Regions from separate parts of the Homo sapiens genome. Here region 1 is linked to region 2. Evidence: fine-mapped expression QTL. Tissue or cell type: lung. Region 2 holds a variant in brackets; the other region holds the start of a gene. All regions are shown on one strand. Distances are from middle to middle.

Region 1 (8,100 bases), 77 kb after region 2:
ACTCACCCGCTCTGGTGAGCAGGTGATTCGCTATGGAAAAGGGACCTGAGACCTGGGCATGTGCCCTTGCTCTGAGGACCTCAGTGTGCTCTGCCAGCCTGGGTGCCCGCACCCCTAGGCCCTACTGGAGTCATCTTCTGAATCCTGGAGGTGCCCCGGCCTGTGGACAGCAAGATGCAGACCCTGCTCTCATCCATCTGCCACCCCACTGCCTTCAGGCAGCTGCCCAGCTGAGGAGCAAGGCTCCAGAATCCTGACAGGGAGGGCAACAAGGAGCAAAAGGGCCTTAGTCAGTGGGGCTGCAGCGGGCACACTCCTCACCCTAACTCCTCAGCCCAATGGCTGATTCTTTGGGTTGTTTGTTTTTGTTTTGAGACAGAGTTTCGCTCTTCTAGCCCAGGCTGGAGTGCAATGGCGTGATATCAGCTCACTGCAACCTCCACCTACGGGGTTCAAGTGATTCTCCTGCCTCAGCCTCCCGAGTAGCTGGGATTACAGGCATGTGCCGCCACGCCTGGCTAACTTTTTATATTTTTAGTAGAGATGGGATTTCTCCATGTTGGTCAGGCTGGTCTCAAACTCCCGACCTCAGGTGATCCACCTGCTTTGGCCTCCCAGAGTGCTGGGATTACAGGCGTGAGCCACCGTGCCCAGCCCCAACAGCTGATTTTTTTTTTTTTTTTTTTAAAAACAAAAGCAAGATTCTGTACCTGCTGAAGCAGGCCCAGAAAAGAGCTGGTGGAGGGCATGGTACCCAGAGCAGCACTGTTTGGTATGACATGGCAGCCACTGGTCACAGGCAGTGCCACAAGCTTGGAATGCCACAGGACAAAATATGTCTGATATATATTTTGGTAACAATAAAATATATTGTCAAAATTATTTTTCTATTTCTTTGCTATTTTCCATTTCTTCTCACTAATTTAACATGGCTACTAGAAAGGTTTAAATTATGCATGTGGCACACGATGTTTCTACTGGACAGCACAGCAGCACAGGGCTAGCACCGGAGATCCTGCAGCTCAGACGCCCATGGGGTGAACAAAAACCTTGCAACTCTCCCAGGCCAGGGACTGACATATTTTAAAACCGGAGATTTTGATTGAGGAGGGAGTAGAGCTACCACATAAGCAAATATGTAATGTTGTATGTTGTATGTTTCTTTCTTTCTTTCTTTAAGAAAAATCCCTTGGCAACAGGAAGCTTAACTGCACCAACAAGGACAGCAGAAGAAAAGCAGAATGTTAGTCAACAAGGGTCACCCTGACCCGAACCCCAGCCCCAGCTCTCTCCAGCTGCACAGCCCTGGGGAGAAAGGAGAAAGAGCAGAGAAGCCCACCCCTCACACACCCGGTTAGTCTCCCCTGCCCACTGGCAGGCCCTGGGGCAGGCCCCTAGATGGGTCTGCAAAGGGACACTGCCCCCTTGCATTCTGCCCCCCCTTCTACATGGCTCCCCCACCCACCCTTCTACACGGTGGCTTCTGAGGGCAGCCCCTGGAGGTGATCATGACCCCCCATCTTGATCTGAGGATTAACAGATACAGGTTCACCTGGTGAAAATGCAGGAGCTGTAGGGGTAGGACCCATCACTCATCTGACTGCATGTTGTAATTCAATGGACAGTTTACTAAAGTAATAGTCTTCTTCCTGTCCTCTGCTGAGCACCCATCTGGCCAACGGTCCTGCGCTCCCTCAGGGCCAGCGGCCCATCTCCTCCTGTGCCTCCTGGAGGGCTTCGCAACTGCCTCCCTCCTCTGGGGAATCTTGCCCCACTGACTGACCTTTCGGCTCTCAGATCCCAGGTCCCTCCCTCGCAGATACGGCAACAGGCTCTCTTGGGATTTCAATCCCGCCTTCCCATCAGCTACTCTTCAAAACACTAACTGGTATTAGCTCCTTCAGAGAACTCTCTGGCTTTCCAGGCCTACAATCTCCCTCCCTAGAATGAAAGCTCAGTGACAGAAGTGCCCTTAAACTTCTGAGTGACACGAGGCCCTCAGCCGGCCCTGAATCAATACTGGCTGGATCAGTGAGTGAATAAATGCACATGTGAGTAAGGAATGAAGGGAGCGAAAGAACTGGATTAGAAGCTGCTTGGGGCAGAGATGTGCCTTACAGGCTTCATGAAGAGTGGGTGATGAAAAAGGTAAATGGAGCATCTAAGAGGAAGCTTTGATAGAAGGGAGAATGCAAGAGAGGTTGGAAATTGGAATCCATTGGAATTGGGAGCCTGGGGAGATGCCAGGACAGGCACTCTCTGGCCTAGGACTCTGCAGAGGGCAGCCTCAGCAGGCAAGCCAGGCCCCCAGCTTCTGGGGCCGGTCGCACCCATTATGGCCCCGAAACGGCTGGGTGGTGGTCTGCAGCCTGCCCAGGGCCGGCTGGGAGACAGGCAGGGTCCCCACCACTCTCTTGCCTCTGGGCAAAAGCTGGCCTCCTGACCCTGGGGGATGGACGGGAGCAGGGGCCACACAACACACTCCCAAACATATAATCGGCCTCCTTCACCCTCGCCCACGCTCAGTCACACACAGCCTCGGTCATACACACTCACACTCACTCTCCGGCACACTCTCAGAGCATCACATAATTTCAGTGAGACACAATCCCAAAGACTAACACGGACAACCTCTGAGTCTCACACAATCTCAGGGCCACACACAGGCACACAATCAGACGAGCTCAGGAACGCCCCCGTCTCTGACACACGCAATCTGAGGTTTACACGCGCGCGCACACGCACACACACAGACACCAGCCGGCGCTCCCGCACGCGGCTCCCCCACCCCCGCCACGCCACGCCCCCATTGCCTGGGAACTGGCGGCCCCGCCCCGCAGCGTTTGAGGCGCCGCAAGCCTTCACGCCCCTCGGGCCTTGCAGATCCCTCTCCCAGTTTCCGCGGCGGTCCGGTGCGGTCAGTACCTGTCTAAAATCAATATTGCCGAGGCCTCCGCAGCAGTCAGGCCCTGCCACCGAGCTGTTCGTTACCTCGGCTCCCGGGTTCCCAGATCTCTTCATCCGGGGGCCGCCTCAGGAGGCACCACGCGGGCCCCGCTGCAGCCACGCGCCCCCGGAACCGGACCTATAGAGCCGGGTAAGTGCCGCCAGTCGGGGCGCTTTCCCGGTGACCCCCAACATATTCCGGCCTTCTGGGAAATGTAGTTCCCCGTCACCGCGAAGTGCCTCTTTATCTGGGGGCTCGCGACAGCGTCTAGAGGAGCCGAGAACTACAAGTCCCAGTGTGTTTCGCCGCAGAGCCTGCCGGTTCCGCTGCAGCTACGTAGCAGTATCCCCTTGGATCCGGCCTCCCGCCCAGTGCCTTTGGTCGCCGGCTGCCGCACCCGAGCCTGTAACTGACCTGGCGTCCCTGCCCTTGCCTGGCGGCGGTGGGGCTAGAGGCCGGGGGCCGCGGGTCGTAGCTATAAGCAGCTTCCCGCGCAGCCTCCTGCGGACTTGGACTTGGCCCGGGTCACACACGCCCAGGGCCCCACACGCCCAGGGCCCCACGCCCTCTTCTGAAATTCGCTTTACTCTGGGGGCGGTGCGCGACGAGCACTGCCTAGAGCTTCCCGCCCCCGCGGCGCCCAGGCTCTTTAGCTCGGCCAAAGACCCCTCCTCCACTCATTTTTTCCTTCATTCATTCTCTCATTCACTCTCGAGTATTTTCTGAACCAGACTGTGCGCTGAGGGTACGGTAGGGAACAACACAGAGTCCCCCGCCCTCGCTTCCTCCTGACTGAGATAAAAGACAAAATGTGAATAAAGGGTTATAATATGGATGAGTACTGTGGTGGAAAAAACGGGGTGGGTCAAATGGTACGGAAGGATGCTGTCTTAGAATGTGCAGGGGAGGTGCCAGATGTGCCAAGTGTGAGGGCAGGGCAAACAAGGCAAGACGAATGGTATGTACAAAGGCCTGGAGACAGGACGGGCACCTAAGGAACAGAGAAAAGACCGGTGAGCTGTGGAGTAGTGATGGAGGGGGTCAAATGGAGAAGAGTTTAGACGATCGGGTCCCAGAAGAACCCCTTTTGTAGGCCGGGTGTGGTGGCTCATGCCTGTAATCCCAGCACTTTGGGAGGCCGAGGTGGGCGGATCACCAGAGGTCGGCAGTTCGAGACCAGCGTGACTAACACGGTGAAACCCCGTCTCTATTAAAAATACAAAAAATAGCCGGGTGTGGTGCGCGCACCTGTAATCCCAGCTACTCAGGAGGCTGAGGCAGGAGAATCGCTTGAACCCAGGAGGTGGAGGTTGCAGTGAGCGGAGATGGTGCCATTGCATGCCAGCCTGCGCGACAGAGCGAGACTCCCTCTCAAAAAAGAAAAAAGCCCTTTTGTAGCCAGGTGTTATGTAATATGGGGAAATAGACTGAGAGGTTCCAAGATTTGCTCAGTCACCCAGACTGCTGGGGGCCCAGACAGGACTTCTGCAGTCAGCTGCTTCCTGCTCCAGATGGCCCGTTTCTCTCCACCTTGGCCCACAGCACCTACCAGTGTTGAGCATTTACTGAGCAGCCACTGTGTGCTGCTTTAGAGGTAGTCCCAATCTTCACAACATCGCTAGGATGGGGCAGGCCAACCGAGGAGACAGGAAAGACACTGGCTTTGGAGCATGCACTATCTCTGTGACTGAGCCCACCTTCATTTTCCTCAAAAGTAAAAGGGAAATACATGTTGGTAAAACTCATCACCCAGGAACTGGCCTGTGGGAAGTGCTCAGTAGGCATTGGCCCCCGGCAGGGCTGGGGACACAGGCTCAGGGCTGGTTCTCTGACTTACCACTGTTACTAATGAGTGTCGGGACCCTTTCCCTGCTCAGTGTCCAGGCAGAGCTGCTAGAGGCAGAGCCATTTCTGAAGGAGCCCCCCGCAGCGGGAGGGCTTCTAGCAAGTCTTTCCCCTCCGCCTACCACACATCCACTTCACTGATGTTCCAGTCTTCTGACCTAACTGGTCACTCCTGTTTTGTTAAGCCCAGAAAACAAATTTTTGTGCGTTTGCTTTATCTGAGAACAAAGTAAGGCAACCGTAAGAGGTCACACCAGAACTGATGCAGTCCGATCCTCTACTCCAGCCTACCCAACCTGGGCCACCCTTCCTCTGTGAAAAGCAAACACCCCACCCAGGAGACAGACTTGCAGCTTGAAACAAGTCAGATAAAAACCTCCTGCCTGGCTCACACCTGGAATCCCAGCACTTTGGGAGGCCGAGGCAGGCGGATCATGAGGTCAGGAGTTCAAGACCAGCCTGACCAACACAGTGAAACCCCGTCTCCACTAAAAATACAAAAATTAGCTAGGCATGGTGGTGCACACTTGTAATCCCAGCTACTCAGGAGGCTGAGTCAGGAGAATTGCTTGAACCCAGGAGGTGGAGGCTGCAGTGAGCCGAGATCGCGCCACTGCACTCCAGCCTGGGCCAGGCTGGGCATGGTGGCTCACGCCTGGAATCCCAGCACTTTGGGAGGCCAAGGCGGGCAGATCACGAGGTCAGGAGTTCGAGACCAGCCTGGCCAGCATGGTGAAACCCCGTCTCTACTAAAAATACAAAAATTAGCCAGGCATGGTGGTGCACACCTGTGATCCTAGCTACTAAGGAGGCTGAGGCAGGAGAATCACTTGAACCTGGGAGGTGGAGGTTGCAGTGAGCCGAGATTGCACCACTGCACTCCAGCCTGGGCGACAGAGATTCCATCTAAAAAAATAAAAATAAAAAACCCTGCCAAAGATACTTTGGGGCACAAGTACTTGCCTGAGCCTTTCAAAAGTTCCCAAGTCTGAGAGCTTGTAGAGAAATTATCCAGGCCAACCTCCCTCACTGAAACATTCCTTCTGTGGCATCTTGGGCAAATGGAAAAGTTGGTTCTGCTTACGTGCCGCCAGTGATGAGAGGTTCCCCACCTCTTGAGGTCGCCCGCTCCACTGATGGACAGGGGTCCATTAACCCAAAGTCATGATACCCATTAACCCAAAGTCACCCTTCCTGAAGCTTTAACAAACAAAAGTTCCTTTCTACCTTCAGGGTTATCTCTCTTTGCCCCTTGATTGAGCTCTTCAGATATAGGAAACCATTTATCATGGAACAGCTCCCAGGGCAAACCTCCTGATGGCCTCTCTTTTCTCTAACCCCACCTCCCTGGCTCCTGAATTATGAATCAGGCTGCAGAAACTCCCAGCAATCATTAAAATGGGGTTTTAGTGCTAAAATTAACATGTGTTTATTGGGTGCCTTTGGGTAAAACCTAAACCTTTCCCTACTCTGAATCTATTTTCTGTTCATAAAACATAATAATATTTATATCATAGAATATCTCTTGAGTATAATATCTCGAGTGAGGCTGTTGTGAGGATTAGAGGTAATAACTCGTACAAAAGTGCCTGGCATACAGTGGGTTCTAAGAAAATGTCCAGGCCAGGCGCAGTGGTTCATGCCTGTAATCTCAGCACTCTGGGAGGCCAAGGCAGGCAGATTGCATGAGCCCAGGAATTCGAGACAAGCCTGGGCAACATGGCAAAACCCCATCTCTACAAAAAAAAATACCAAAAAAAAATTAGCCGGGTGTGGTGCACGTGCCTGTACTCCCAGCTACTCGGGAAACTAAAGCGGCAGGATCACTTGAGCCCAGGAGAGAGAGACTTCAGGGAGCTGTGATTGTGCCACTGTACTCCAGCCTAAGTGACGAGAGTGAGACCCTGTCTCCAAAAAAAAAGAAAGAAAAAAATGTTTCTCTCCTTTCTATATAATTGAGATCTGGTGGTTAAGGTCACACTCATGGACATGCTGCTGGGATTTAGGACACCACTGGGGGCCAGGAGAGCTGGCTGACAGCTCAGGGACCTGCCAGAGTTCCTGGGAGGAGATGGGTGGGCAGGGGCCAGGATGGGTGGCCAGAGCTGCTCCCCAGACAGCAGGTACTGCAGGTTATCAGAAACCATATTGTCACTGGGAGTGCTTTAAAACCAGGAAGGTGGTGAGGGGCTGTGGCCGCAATGCCCAGCACCCACTTCATAGACTCAGGCCTGATTGCCCTCATTCTACCCCTGGTGGCTCCAGGAACAAGAGGGTAGCCAGGGTGGGAACTGGGGCAGGGGAGAGGTCATCTGGAGATGTGTGCCCTGATCACGAGTTCCCTCCCCACTCCCATCTGCCCTGAGCTTTGGAAGAAGCCCCTTCCCCAAGGACCTACTACTTGCTGGGAAGAGGGCACGGGAGTGAAGTTACCTGAACCCAGTTGTCCACAGCCTAGGCCAGCCTGGGAAACACCAGCAAGGATGTTGGTGCTGGCAGGGCCTCACTGCCCCTCAGTGTCCACAGTGTCCACAGAGCACAAACCCCTGCCTTCCAGCTGGCCTCCAGAGGTCCTAAACACCCCAGGTATACACCCACCACAGGGCATTTTCATGTGCTATGTCCTCCGCCTGGGTTGCTCTTCCCCGCATTTCCTCCCAGTACCCTCCTCACCTCCTCTGGGTTCTGCTCAAGTTCCACCTCTCCACCCTGTTGAACATGCTGACTTCCCCATGCTCGCCATGGGCCTCTCCCAACTTTATTTCTCTCCATTGGCCATATCATTTAACAAATGTATTTAGTGCACTTATTTATTTTGTATAGTGTCATTCCCTGTCCATCCCCTATCCCCTATAAGGGGAACTTCACCAGGGCAGAGATTTTTTGTTTGTTTGTTTTTTGAGACGGAGTCTTGCTCTGTCGCCCAGGCTAGAGTGCAGTGACGTGATCTCGGCTCACTGCAACCTCTGCCTCCCGGGTTCCAGCAATTGTCCTGCCTCAGCCTCTGGAGTAGCTGGGACTACAGGTGCGCACCACCACACCCAGCTAATTTTTCTATTTTTTAGTAGAGACAGGGTTTCACTATATTGGCCAGGCTGGTCTCAAACTCCTGACATCAGGTGATCCACCTGCCTCAGCCTCCCAAAGTGCTGGGATTACAGGCATAAGCCACCACCCCTGGCTTTTTTTTTTTTTTTTAAGAGACCCCTGGGTTTAAAATCCTGGGCCCAAGCGATCCTCCTGACTCAGTCTCCGGAATAGCTGAGACTACAAGTGCATGCCACCATGCCCGGCTAAGGGCAGGGATG
Region 2 (8,100 bases):
GGCCAAACACGGCACAAACCACAATCCTGCCTGGCCTGAGAGCCACGCGTGCCGGGAGCTGCCAGAGAGGTGGCTGACTCACCACCACCTCAGGCTTCTGTGCAACAAGGCCTGAGAGTCTTCTGCAAGGGGGAGCTGGTGCTGGAGCTGGACTCAAGGAGTCCTGCACCCAGCCCGGGCCGCAGAACGGGCATTGAGTGCATCTTCATTAGCTGGAGAGAAGCAGCAGGAGCTGCCTTCACTCCCCAGGAGGCAGCCGCTCAGCACGCTGGGGTAAGAGGAGCTGTTGGAGCCCAGCCTCCTGTTCTAACCACAGACAAGCCAGGCCTGGAGGAGCAAAGACGCCCCGATGGAGGGGGCCCCTAGCACTCCCACCGATGTCACGGATAGCAGGGCAGCAGCCACCTGGCCCTGCACCTCCCTGGGGCTCCAGCGGTCCTGCTCAGGGTCACCCCAGCCCTCAGGGTCTTACCTAGGAAAGTTCCAGCGAACCCCAGTGCAAAGAAGCTGGAGAGCACGAGCACGACGCCCAGTCCCAGGAGCGCGAGGCCCAGGCTGTAGGCCGCGGGGGTGTCCAGGCTCTCCATCCTGGGCTGGCTCAGCATGGCCTGCGTGAAGCTGTGGGCAGGGGATGGAGAGGGAGGACGTCATGGCCAGGGAGGATGTCACAGCCCGGGAGGAGGCCGACCTCATCTTCTCGCCCTCTCCCCAGGGACCCTTAGAGAGTAGCCAGCCCAGGGCTGCCAGGCCAGGCAGGCAGCAGGTGGGGTCCAGTCCACCTGGGAGGTGGGTGACAGTAACAGGGAGGGGCCCAGGCCTGTCAGATTTTTAAATTTTTTCAAGAGAAGCCAGAAATCCTGACTCGTATGTGAAATATCCTAATTTTTAGAAATAGACAATTCATGAAAGCCACTTTAGACCCTGCATGTGAGCAGGCTGGATTCAGCCCGAAGGCCACCAGCTTGCAAACTCTCATCCTGTCCAATGAGCAACTCATACTATGGAGGAAAGTGAGGCTCAGGAAAGACGCAGGTGCCAGGTTGCAGGGCAGGCCCAGGTGTCCCATTCCCCAACAGACTCAGTGCCCCGAGGCCTGGGGCATGCTCTGTGCTAGGGATTGCGCTTCCACAGCCCCTGTGGGTCTGGCCACATCCTGGGTGGCTTGACTTGCATTTAAAGGCACTTTGGGGGCCCTTAATGTCCTCCTCCACACCTGAATTCCCCCACTAGGCTCCCTTTGGGGCCAAACCACTGAAGGCCTTGTAAAAAGGTAGTGGGGTCCAGGTGTGGTGGCTCACGCCTGCAATCCCAGCACTTTGGGAGGCCGAGGTGGGCGGGTCACCTGAGGTCAGGAGTTCAAGACCAGCCTGGCCAACATGGTGAAACCCTGTCTCTACCCAAAATACAAAAATTAGCTGGGTGTGGTGGTGGGCACCTGGAATCCCAGCTACTTGAGAGGCTGGGGCACAAGAATCGCTTGAACCCAGGAGGCGGAGTTTGCACACCACTGCACTCCAGCCTGGGCAATAGAGCGAGACTTAGTATCAAAAGAAAAAAGAAAAAAAGAAAAGGCAGTGGCGTGACCAAAAGGGGGTGACTATGACAGCAGTGGGTCTAGAGGCTCAGGTTCTCCAGTTGGCTCCGGAGAACTGAGGGGCTGGTGCAGGGAGGGCACAGGGGCTAGGCATGTGCTGATGTACCCAGGCCTCATCACAGGGGAGCGGGCGCTGGTGGGAAGGGGGCCCTGGGTGCTAGATGAGAGGCACACTCACAGGAAAGGCTGTGTGTGGGAGCACGGACATGTGTGACCAAATGTGCTCTTCCCATGCTCACAATAATCACAACACAGAAGAGACATGGAGATCTGCTACCTCACGCAGGGCAGCGCCTTTCACACCCAGTCTGTAGACGGCATCTCCCAGCAGGGCCAGCTTACCATCCACCCCACCACCCATCCTTCCTCCATCCATCTATCCTCTATGCACCCACACATCCATCCATCTGTCCAGCTATCCATCCTTCCATCCATCAATGTATCCTCTATCTGCCCACACAACCATCCATCCATCCACCATGAAGTATCTTTGTTTGCTAGGCTCTTTCAAGCAGATTGAAGCCCCCATCTTCATCCACTCGTTCCATTCATTGGTGAATTCAGATTGTTGTGAAACTCCTTATGCTGAGCTAAGGACATACAGACATGTCTTTATGCCTCCCTGGAACTCCTTCCTCCAGCTTGACTGGGAGCTCTTGGGGAACAGAAGTTGCTCCTCCTTCCCTGCGTATCCCCCCAGCACTTGGCCCAGGCCACAGAATGGATGTTTAGTGCATATTCATCGACTGGAGAGAAGCAGTAGCCGCTCCTTCCTTCTCCTCCCATCCCCAAGAGCAGAGAAGGAGCCAGGGAGAAAGGGAGAAGGGCCTGTGGACAAAGCCACCAGGACCCGGTGGCAGAGGCGGGCACACCGACCTGTTAAACAGCGGCATTCGGGTGTCAGGGCAAACCCACTGCCGGTCATGCTGCCCATACCCCCAGCTCTCCACCCACCAGTGCCCTGCCCTGATCCTGCTGCTGCCCGGGCTCAGGGTCACCCCGCAGCTCCAGGCCGAGCCTCTGGGATTGGCTCAGGGTCACGGGCTGCCATGGAATCAGGTGGCCACATGCACACCCAGTGTGGTGCCACGATCCAGGCACACCTTCTCCCCTGCCTGGCACCCTCCACTCTCCTGCCTGCAGATGGTGGAGTGGGAGGGAAAGGAAGGGTGCCGGCCCTGCTCAGGAGCATGGCTCCCCTGCAAGCATCTGGCTCCTTGGCTGCCACTGCAGTGGGGACCAGAAAACAGACAGGGGTTGGGAGGGGCGAACAGGGGAGAGCATTCCAGAAAGAGGAAATAGCAGGGAGGTGTGCCTTAGAGTCTGGGGCAGGGCATGGAGCAGGGAAGGTGCAGGCCTCGGCCCGGCAGGGTTTGGAATGCACTCTGCCTGCTGTGGAAAATGCAGAACCAGGGAGACCCATCCAGGTGCTGCAATAGGGGGTGGGCGCAGAGGCCAGGCCCGAGACGCTGGAGGGTCACTCTGGACGGAGACTCTGTCGCTCTTACCCCCTCCTGCGGAGACCCGAGCCAGGCCTGGGTCCATACCCCATGCTCAGGGTTCCTCTGCCAGAATTCATCTGCATCACACAAGCAGGCAGCAGATGAAAGGGAACTTCCTCCCTCTGGTGTGGCCCAAAAGCCCAGCTCATTCAGGGCCCAGCTTCCCTGGGGGCATGGCTCAGTAGGCAAATCAGATCTGCTTGGAAGCAGATTCCTGATGAAGGGCAGATCCGGGGCCAGGGAGCGGGTGGGAGAGGCCCCAGATTTGCCCCAGACCTGACCCTCAGTCCCCCAGCTGCTCCTCCGCCTACGGCCCCAGTCCTGGGGCCTTTCCTTTCCTTTCTCTGAGATGACAGCCTGGGCTGGCTCCTGGCACAATGCTCTGTGGGTCATTTGCTCAGAGTCGGCAGAGGAACTGGGCTGAGCTCCTCCCTGGCGTTCTCACCAAGTGGCCCCTTACCCAGTCAAATACACTCTGATTCTAGATTCCAGGTTTACTGGAATCTCATGGCCCGAATTAGGCAATCGACAGTGTTCTAGCTCCTCCATTAAGCCAGGAAAGCACAGTCCGTCCATTCCACAGGGAAAATTAGTGGATGGATGAGTAGCTCTGTGACCACAAGCTCCCTAACAGAATGAGGTAATATAGGACGCAATTTCCCTTGGAAGTATTCCGCACTAGGGGTGGGGAACGGAGACTCATTCATTTGCCTTGGGTTCTATTTTTAAGACCTGGATTGAACCTTCAGTCATTAATGTGATTTGAGGCTGTCTGCACTCTGCTCCCATAAAATCCCGGAAACCCTGGGGTGGAGGTGGGGAGGGGGCATCACTGCCCTCAGTGTCCCCGCCCTGTCCCCAGCCAGCAGTCCTGGGCCACACACCAGGCCAGAGGCACACGGCCCCACCTGGGACAGGCCTGTCCCGTTTCTATCTGCAGCCGACCAGAAACACTTCCCTGACTTTGATCATCCTGGGGTGTCTCCGCAACGTCGTCCACATCCATGTGTGGCCTGAGTGCCATGTACTCCACATCCTTCACCCCAGGCTTGGAGTGACTCGCTCTTTCCACTCCATCTCAGCTACACGACGCTAGCCATGAAATGAGTCGTCTGATGGGCTCATTTCTTTTCCAAGACATATTAAAATAAGCATGTAACTACTAAAACAAAAAATGTTCATCTATGCAACCCCCGAGACCATCAAAGGGCTTGAATTTCGGGCTTTGACGCTGCACTAATTCTGAGCATTTGAATAACACGTCACCTTTCCAAAGTGTTTCCAGAACCCATCAATAGCTGAGAGAGAGTCTGTCTTGTTTTACAAACAGGGAAGCAGATGGTAGAAAGCAGGAGGGGCAGGATGGCTCTCCTGCCTCCTCACGACCTGTAAACAGTGGGATAGGCTCAAGCCTCACGGGCAGGCCAAGGACAACAGGCAGCAGTATCCCAGCACCCCTAGCACCTGGGAATCCCAGGCTGACACCCACTCTCCTTCCAGACTTCCTGGCCGTGTGTGCTTTGGGGATGGGGAGGGTGCCTCTTCCCTCCTTCCCAGCCACAGCCCCTCAGGTGCCAGACCAGCCTGGTCTACCAGGGCCTGGACCCACTCTTGCCGAACTGCAGCCCCTCTCCCTCCTTCCTTCCCAGCAGCTGGGGGCCCTTGTGCCCAGGAAAGCCTATGCCAGCTTCCCTGTCCTAAGTGTCCCCCCACCCCTTACTCTCCAGCTGCCCTCATGGACCCCGCCCAGTG[G/A]CTACCCCAGGCACCTGCCTCGAGGAAATCACTCTGGTGAAGGGATTTCACAAATAGAATTCAGGTCCTAATCAGCTGGCCTTGAGTTAATCAAAAGGGAGGTGACCCTGGGTAGGCCTTTCCAAAAGGGTCTAGAAGCCAGAGAGACCAAAAGCCAAAGCCACAGAGCTGCCTGCTGTGCTGCGGGGAGGCCACCAGGAGCTGGGCCTCAAGGACCCGCGTCCTGCCAGCAACCCGAAAGAGTGGAGGACCACGCCTTGGGTGAGCTCACACCCAGCAGGCACCTTGATTCCAGCCTGGGGAGTCCCTAAGCAAAGACCCCGCCCCCGCATCCAGCCTCCTGGACACAGAAACTGTCACATAGTAAGTTTGTGTGGTTTAAGCCCTAAGTGTGTGGGAATTTGTTACACAGCAGAAGGAAACTAATACACTTGGCTTCCCAGTCCACAGACTCTTTAAAAATTCTGGCCTGTTCTGCCAAGACAGCAGGAGTCGCTTTTTTCTGCCATGGAACGCTGCACACGCCCAGCCCTCCATTGCTCCATCGGAAGCAAACTGTCCCATCAGCTCCATGCCCTCCCTCCTTCATGCAGCCGCTCAACCCCCGGCCTGTCCTGACCACATCCTTGAGCAGGTCCGGCCAGGCACTGGGTGGGATGCAGCAGTGACCAGGACATGTAGTCACCAGGACAGAGGGCCACCTGTGCCAGCCTCCTCCAGGGCCACAGTCCCCAAAGGCCTGGCCTCAGAATCATCAGGGAGTTTTTGAAAACAGACTTCCCTAGGGGAGAGGGGCTCTGGGGTGAGTCTGGTGTCCCACAGGGTTGCACCTGCCCCACGGCCTCTAGTATACAGAGCGCTGAGGTGAGTCCCCACCTGCCCTGCCCCTGCTGCCCAGCCTGTGAGTGGGGGCCGCCCTCTCCTGGGACTCATGGGCCCTGCCCAGCCATCTGAAGAGCCGGCTCACTCCTCCAGGCCTTGGTCGTAAGGCTTCTTCAGCCAGGGCTCCGCCTGCACCCCACCCACCCAGACCACCTTCCAGAGACCACCCTGCCCCTCCAGGTGCCTCCTAGCCCAGCCTGGGAATACCTCCAGGTTGAGGAAGATTCCTGATCGACAGCCACACTCCGAGGCCAGGATGCAGCTTCTTAGCCTGGCTGTGCCCGCCACACCAGAGCACACAGGAGCCTCTCCCCTCAGAAGACCCAGAGGGAGCCCTGGGAGACTCCAGGCAATTCCGATGTGCGCTGGAGCACAGTTCCATCCCGTGACTGGTGAACGACACCAGGAGCTCGCTGATGCCCTAACAAGCTCGGCTGTCTCCTCCCACAGCCAGGAGGGAGGAAGGGCTGCAGCCCAGTCCTGTGAAGCCCGTTCGAGCCCTGCCTGGCCATCCACGCCTCGCCCACCCCCGTGGGCTTTCTCGAGACCAGCCTTGTGGCTCATCAGAGGGTAGCGGTCCAGCCAAAGCTGGCCAAGTTCAGCTGTGCAGGGGGCAGCTCAGGCAAGGGACTTCAACAAGTGCCCCGGAGCCCATCAGCCTTCCTCCCCATTCACACTCCACAGCCAGAGCAAACAGGTCTGTGCTAATGGCCCCTTCGGGACTGGATGGAGCACACCTGCTTCCAGATAACAGTGGCTCATCCTGCCCCGGGCCTCCCCTGACCACCTCTGGATGCACTGCTGGTGCAGACCTGCTAACATAGTGACCTACTCTCCCCTGGGACCCGCTGGCAGGTCAGCTGCTGGTGGCCTCTCGGACATCCCATCCATGACCCAGGCTTGGCTCAAGCACGTGCCTGTGTTCTCTGCCCACCAACCGACTCCTGCTGGGTGCAGAGGCTTTTGAGCACAGCCTGGACCCCACAAAGCTTGCCATCTCCCATGGAGAACGATGCCACACCCCAAAGGTCCAGAACAGGCACACTCATGGGGACAGAAAGCAGACGAGTGCTGCCAGGGACTGGGGGGCGGGAGATGACTGCTCCAGGCCTATAGGGTGAGGAAAAAGCTCCGAAACTAGTCAGGAGGAAGGGCTGCACAACATCGGGAAGCTGCTAAATGTCACTGAATTGTAAAGCTTAAAATGGTTCATAACAGTTTATGTTATGTCTATTTTACTGCACAAAAAAGAATACCCACCTCTAGACAGCCACTGAAGCGAGGCATGCATGGGAAAGGGTGTGGGGGTGTGGGGTATGCAGGAGCTGGTCCCGAGGGTCCTGTCAGAGCCTGGCCCAACAGCCCGGTCCGGCTCCAGCACCTGCCACCTGTGTGCCTCACACTGGCAGGTGTGGGCGGGAAGGATGGGTCACCAGGGACATGGCAGGATAGGGTGCAGGCAGGGGCCTGGAGGGGAAGAACAGTGGGGGAGAGAGTGAGGACCAGGGCACACCTCTGCCTCTGAACACAAAAGGTGAGAGGAGAAAAGCAGCCCAGGACATCCTTTCTCTCCTCCCCAAAATCCAGGGGTGGCCAGTTCAACCAAAAGTCATGGCCCTGCTGGCTGGGCAGATGCCAGGTGAGGCCAACGCTGATATGAGAGGAGGGAAAGCTGGGAGCCACCATCTGTAAGAAGCTGACTTCCTCCAGCTACCCCAGGAGGACTCCCAGGCCCCGGGATCCAAGAACAAACCAGACAGTGCTTTGCTGCTGTCTACGGCTGGAACTGGGCTGTGGGTGGGCCTGTCCCCCTGGTCTCCTAGGTACACACAGCACTCGGCTGGGGCCTGGAGGAGGAAGGATGACCCCTTCCAGGGCCCTCTACTCTCTGCCTTGAAAAGGGGTGGATGACGGGGGCAGACCTCCAGGGTCAGGCAGATCACAGGCTGTGCTGCTGGACCAGCAGGGAGGTGATGGGGAGGACTCAAGGAAGCCTCTGGGGTTTCTAGTGCAAGATGAGATTGCGCAGGAAATCAGAACTCAGCAGAGACTCAGAGCAGCTCCCGGGGCAGGGCTGGCAGGAGGGGCTCCATCAAGGCAGCTGCCTTGTGGCGCTGGCCGGTGTTTCTGGGCAGTCACCTGGCCTGGTCTAGCTGCTCCTGGATCTGTGTGCGCTGTGGGCTGCAGCCCACTTCTCCTGCTTTGTGCCGGCCCTGATGGTGGTCCCGGCATGCTCTAGGGAGCAGGAGTGGTGGAACAGCTCAGCGTGCCAGCCCTGGGCTGAGTCTCAACCCTCTGCAGCCCTCCACCTGTCTTCAGCCTCGCTGTTCCTGTGGGGGGACTCCAAGCTCTGAGCGTTCAGTCGGCCAG

The links. PIP is the estimated chance that this variant, and not a neighbour inherited with it, causes the effect.
Region 1: PEMT starts here. The variant in region 2 is fine-mapped to the expression of PEMT in lung (TOPMed, PIP 0.94).

The regions. Positions count from the first base shown.
Region 1 is chr17:17,588,606-17,596,705 of GRCh38, forward strand. PEMT (phosphatidylethanolamine N-methyltransferase) reads right to left here and starts at 3,103. Exons shown (of 7, transcript NM_148172.3): 1 at 2,926-3,103. The coding sequence starts at 3,021. RefSeq lists enhancers at 2,548-3,289, 2,855-3,244.
Region 2 is chr17:17,512,037-17,520,136 of GRCh38, forward strand. PEMT (phosphatidylethanolamine N-methyltransferase) reads right to left here. Exons shown (of 7, transcript NM_148172.3): 4 at 473-618. Among named protein-coding and RNA genes, the nearest start is that of RASD1, 20 kb to the left of the region's middle. RefSeq lists enhancers at 693-1,562, 1,563-2,432, 3,303-4,172, 5,043-5,912. The variant G/A (reference allele first, on the strand shown) is at 4,849.